Linked DNA regions of Homo sapiens: region 1 is linked to region 2. Evidence: fine-mapped expression QTL. A gene starts in region 2. The other region holds a variant in brackets. All regions are shown on one strand. Distances are between the middles of the regions.

The links.
Region 1: its variant is fine-mapped to the expression of MROH2B in atrial appendage (GTEx, PIP above 0.99).

The regions. Positions count from the first base shown.
Region 1 is chr5:40,981,586-40,984,482 of GRCh38, forward strand. C7 (complement C7) reads left to right here. Exons shown (of 18, transcript NM_000587.4): 18 at 1-2,897. Among named protein-coding and RNA genes, the nearest start is that of C7, 74 kb to the left of the region's middle. The variant T/G (reference allele first, on the strand shown) is at 1,345.
Region 2 is chr5:41,070,033-41,072,954 of GRCh38, forward strand. MROH2B (maestro heat like repeat family member 2B) reads right to left here and starts at 1,310. Exons shown (of 42, transcript NM_173489.5): 1 at 793-1,310. The coding sequence starts at 820. It overlaps LOC105374739 (a long non-coding RNA gene), which reads left to right and starts at 1,325. Exons shown (of 6, transcript XR_001742650.2): 1 at 1,325-1,896.

The DNA.
Region 1 (2,897 bases), 88 kb before region 2:
CCTGGTCAGCTTGCTTGGAATCCAGCAGGCAGCTGGGGCTGAGTGAAAACATCTGCACAACTGGGCACTGGACAGCTTTTCCTTCTTCTCCAGTGTCTACCTTCCTCCTCAACTCCCAGCCATCTGTATAAACACAATCCTTTGTTCTCCCAAATCTGAATCGAATTACTCTTTTGCCTCCTTTTTAATGTCAGTAAGGATATGAGCCTTTGCACAGGCTGGCTGCGTGTTCTTGAAATAGGTGTTACCTTCTCTGGGCCTTGGTTTTTTAAAATCTGTAAAATTAGAGGATTGCACTAGAGAAACTTGAATGCTCCATTCAGGCCTATCATTTTATTAAGTATGATTGACACAGCCCATGGGCCAGAACACACTCTACAAAATGACTAGGATAACAGAAAGAACGTGATCTCCTGATTAGAGAGGGTGGTTTTCCTCAATGGAACCAAATATAAAGAGGACTTGAACAAAAATGACAGATACAAACTATTTCTATCCTGAGTAGTAATCTCACACTTCATCCTATAGAGTCAACCACCACAGATAGGAATTCCTTATTCTTTTTTTAATTTTTTTAAGACAGAGTCTCACTTTGTTGCCCAGGCTGGAGCGCAGTGGGGTGATCTCATCTCCCTGCAACCTCCGCCTCCTGGGTTCAAGCGATTCTTGTGCCTCAGCTTCCCAAGCAGCTGGGATTACAGGTGCCCGCCACCACGCCCAGCTAATTTTTGCATTTTTAGTAGAGATGGGGTTTCACCATGTTGGCCACGCTCGTCTCCAACTCCTGACCTCAGGTAATCCGCCTGCCTTGGCCTCCCAAAGTGCTGGGATTACAGACATGAACCACCACGCCTGGCTGGAATACTTACTCTTGTCGGGAGATTGAACCACTAAAATGTTAGAGCAGAATTCATTATGCTGTGGTCACAGGGGTGTCTTGTCTGAGAACAAATACAATTCAGTCTTCTCTTTGGGGTTTTAGTATGTGTCAAACATAGGACTGGAAGTTTGCCCCTGTTCTTTTTTCTTTTGAAAGAACATCAGTTCATGCCTGAGGCATGAGTGACTGTGCATTTGAGAATAGTTTTCCCTATTCTGTGGATACAGTCCCAGAGTTTTCAGGGAGTACACAGGTAGATTAGTTTGAAGCATTGACCTTTTATTTATTCCTTATTTCTCTTTCATCAAAACAAAACAGCAGCTGTGGGAGGAGAAATGAGAGGGCTTAAATGAAATTTAAAATAAGCTATATTATACAAATACTATCTCTGTATTGTTCTGACCCTGGTAAATATATTTCAAAACTTCAGATGACAAGGATTAGAACACTCATTAAAGATGCTA[T/G]TCTTCAGAATTGTTTCATTTGTATGATGTTTCATTTTAGAGAAGATTTTCATGATGAATGGTTAATGTGTTCTTGCCTGAAGTTTTATGTCTGATCCAGATCTAGCTTTTTGTATCAAAGTGTGCCCTAAGGGAAGATGCAGATATAATATGTTGAAGTTACAAGGAGGCAGGTTTCAATTGGTTAAAAACAATGACATTCAGACATTGCAACTGCATTTGTTAGCGGTTATTACAGAGTTAATTTCTACCCTGGATGGGAGGACACATTTGAACATGCTAGGCCTGGATGCAGACCCTGAGACAAAAGGTTGAACAAGTAATTCATTTGGAAGGAAATACCTCAGTATCCTTCCAATAATTTCTCCTCTTAGCTTAAGCTAGTATGGAGTTAGATTCCTACCGCTTATGTATCACCATGCCCCCTTCCTAAATAATACAGAGGATATGGTCAGCATTATCACATATCATCAGAGATTGAGGTTTGAAAGAAAGGAAATGAGTAGATGTAACTAAGAGGTTTGAGAAAGGAATTTCAGCAGAGTTATTGAAGGAGAAGTCAAGGAGAGGAGAAGGAGAGGAGCAGTGAATGTTGTCGTGAAGAGGTGTTGTCTTGAAATACTGTATTTTTTTCCTCCTTTTCTTTTCTGAACATTCTTGTGCTGACCTTTCCTCTAGTCCAACAGAGGCATTCACAATTGCCTGTGGAGAATTAGGATTGTCGCAGCAGGTCAGCAAGGAGAAAGTCATTTTTAAGATTAAATTTTTAAAAATGTTTTGAAACTTCCAAAATAAGTTCTTGAACACCTATGGAGAGGCTTTGAGGAAAGTTAAGGGAATGATTTTATACCACAAAAATAAATGGAAAAAGAATAAAGACTGTGAGAATTCCATCTTCCTGCCCTTTCCTGTGCCTCAGATCAGGTGAGGGTCATCTGGGTTAGAAGGGGATAGAGCCTTGGAGGAGGCAGAGGGCAGAAAGCATTGCTGAGATTAGAGTCATTTGGCCCTCAGAAGGAACAGACAAAGAGAAGGAAATTGGCTGGTGCATTAATCATCACTAGCTTCAGGGAGCTATGTGGAGGCCAAGGCACATCCTACAGATCATCGCTTACCACTCATGAGGACGCTACAAGTTACCTGGGCAGAGAAGGTGCCTGAGAATATTTCCTAATCGTTTTGAGAAGTGCCTTCCTGTGACATCTTATGTATTTCCTAATTGATCAAAAGTAGTGCTGCTTCTCTAAGCCCTGAGATTTAATGAGCCCCATTCAAACTGTTATTAATGTAACCTTCTTTCCCAGTGCAGGATGACTTGTAATCACCTTGAAAGAGAAGGAGGGTTCTTCGTATTCAGGTAGGGTATGGTAGGGATGTGGAGTGCCAAGCAGGAAATCTGACAAGTGACCCCCGGAACTTTGGATTACCTAGCAACTAGCCAGGTAACTGGCTAATCTGATTGAGGGTTGCCCTCTTTGCTGGGCAGATCATGGCTAATCTCAGCTTCACATGAGTCTTGTGAACCATCTAGTTGTTTTGTAACTGCTAAGAGC
Region 2 (2,922 bases):
TGCCTTGTAAATTCTCTCTTGCAGGATTTAGCTCTCAGAGTCAATGAGGTGAATTTCTCACTCCTGACTTAAGCATTAGAAGGCAGGGGTGCAACATAGCTGTTTATTTTTCACTGGTCCTCCCCTCAATACCTCTCCCATCTTCTTTTTCCATACCCTTTTCAACTCCACCTATTCTCCTGTGCCTGCCAACTCCCTCTTTTGGTCACATGCTAATGAAGGCTTCCTGTTTTCTGACAATGACCTAAATGTGTTTGACTTGCATTTTCTAGGAATATATGTTTTTGAATAAAGCACTCTAGAAAACTGGAAAAAAAATTGAGTCAAAGGAATTGAGCAATTTCAAGCTACATGGCAAGTTGGTAGGAGAAATACTTTTGGAGATGAAGATTTCTTATTAACCTCCACACCAAACAACATACTCATTTAGGGCAATCTTTTTGGCAAAGTAGAAAGGCAGCCATACCTGGAAATTGGGAGAAATACTTCCAAAGGACTCTTCTAGTATTTAAAATTAAATAACAAACTGCCTTTCTTTGATATGTAGCCACTTTCTCCTCAGGTAGACTCTAAATTTTAAAGCACAACCATCTCTTAGGCTTCCAGTCTATTATTGGTCCTTCACAATCAGCATGATTTTATTATGTATTTAGCATACCATTTCATAAATCCTTTGAGGTGTACAGTCCTCCCACAATGACGCGCCACTCCCAGCCCTCATATATACTTATAATTCCACAGAAACAAAACACAGGGAAGAGCCTTGGCTTCTCAGGATCTGATGATGCTTACCTATGGATTCCTCTGTACTAAGTGTCATGTCTTGGCTGTTTCAGGGTCTCTAAAAGATAGCACCTAAGTATTAGAAATAGTAAGGCTAAAAAATCAAAGAGGCAGGTTGGCAAGTTTCTCATATAAGGTTCACATAAGCCTCTCTAAATGAAAGTGCCTCCTCCACTTGATTGGCACAATGGTCTGGGAGCTTCCAGAGATGGGCTTGCTGTTGAAGTTGATACTGTATTCTACCACTATGACATTGTCTTGCGTCTGAACTCCTGCTAACCAACAAAATGGCTGCATCTCACCAAATATTGTCCCTTTGGTGACCAGAGTATTTGGGAAAGAAGTAATTAGAGACTGGGATTCAAACCATTGTTGCAGACCAAAGGTGCTCCTCTCCCTAAACTTGAGTCCATTGATCACAAATTCAGGAATGGTTTTCAGTAGTTGCTTTACTGTCCTGATGTTGGGAAAGGCTTTATGGTGAACTCGTTGATTGTTACACTTAGTGAAAATCAGTCATATGAACTGAGCATGCTCAGTGGACTGGAATGCACTTCAGGGGCAGTTGGATGGAATGTCCAACTGACAGCAGCAAAGTGAAGACCTCTCTACCTCCCTCTCCATTAATTCCTCCCTGGCATGTTCAGGATCTTGGCCTCACTCCAGGCTCAGGCTTTTTCTCTGTCTTCAGCTTTCTTTTTGTTTTCAAATTATTTTTTATCTAGATCAATTTTCCATAATGTTTTCAACTTATCTAGCATGAATTGAAATCTGGTCCCCAACTATAAATCTATGTGATGACAATCTTCAATATATGTCCAGACTCTATGTGAATATGGAGGATGATAGAGAAAGGGAAGGCAGTACTGCTAGTCTATAGGGCTAAATGTAGAATGGGCTGAGGAGGGGAGCTCATGACAATTTTCATCTGCTGCTGCTTTTTTGGCCATCTTAACTTCATCGGTGAAGCTTATTCCAGATTCAAAGGTCAACTGCTTCCAACTAAACCTTTGAATTCATCATTCTTCTCATAGACATTTTGCACTGTATTAAAGAGATCCTCAACATTTTCCGCTTCCCAAGTCAGCATCACTTTCAGAGTTTTGTCTCCAGGTGACTTTATCATGGGATTTACTTGGTATCCTTATTTAAAATGTGAATTCCCAGGCCCCACTTCAGACCCAGTAAATTAGAATGAGGGGGCAGCAATCTATATATTTAATGTGCGCCCCTGGTGATTCTTAGGTTCACTGAACTTTGAAAAGCACTGACCAAGGTCCTTGCCCAAACATTCATTAGTGGATCAGTAAATAGCAGTTAACTGAAGAATGTTTGTTGTGGTTGGGCAAGGAGCTCTTCCCCAGCATCATGACTCACTGAAGAATAGGCCAAGTTTGGTTAGTCAGGGAGGTACTGGGGTGATTAGAGGCATCCCGAAACTCTTAACATCTATAAGATGTTAAGTCTACTTGTAGTAAATAAAACAACAGATTCCCTATAAGGGAAAAAATGATGTTAGAAATTATGTGCTCTTAGAGTCTTAAAAAACAATGTACAGCAGAATCAATAATAAGAAAGCTAGCCATTTAGGTAATTGTTACAACCATTTTCTTAATATTTTTGTGAATGGTGACAAATGATTTTTCTGTATGTCTGTATATAAAGACTTCCTTGATTTCATAGAGATTAGAGAAGTTAGGAGATAATTGATTTATTTTGACTTTTAATTTATTCATCGCTGCAATCAAAACACAACTTTTTGCTAAAATCCTTTCAGACAAAGTAAATTCACTCATTGAAACCAATACTGCAGATAGTTTTAAAATCCCCAAATCCTCAAAATAGCTGATTTGCTGTCATTTTATTTCATTTTTCAGTCGCCTGCTTGTTACATCTTCCCATTATTTCTTCCTCTTCTCATTGCATGAGGCTAACACAATATGGATTTGATTTCTCTAAGACTCTAAGAGGATCCTAAACACGAATTCTCAAAGTGAATAGGATGGCATGTGCTAACTAATTAAGTACTGTTTCTAGATATTTGTGAGGGAGCCTAAATCTAGCCTGCTAAGGAATTAGAGTGTCTCACTGGATATGTGGTAGCCATCCCCTTTCAATGTAACTTGTCAAATGAAGCTA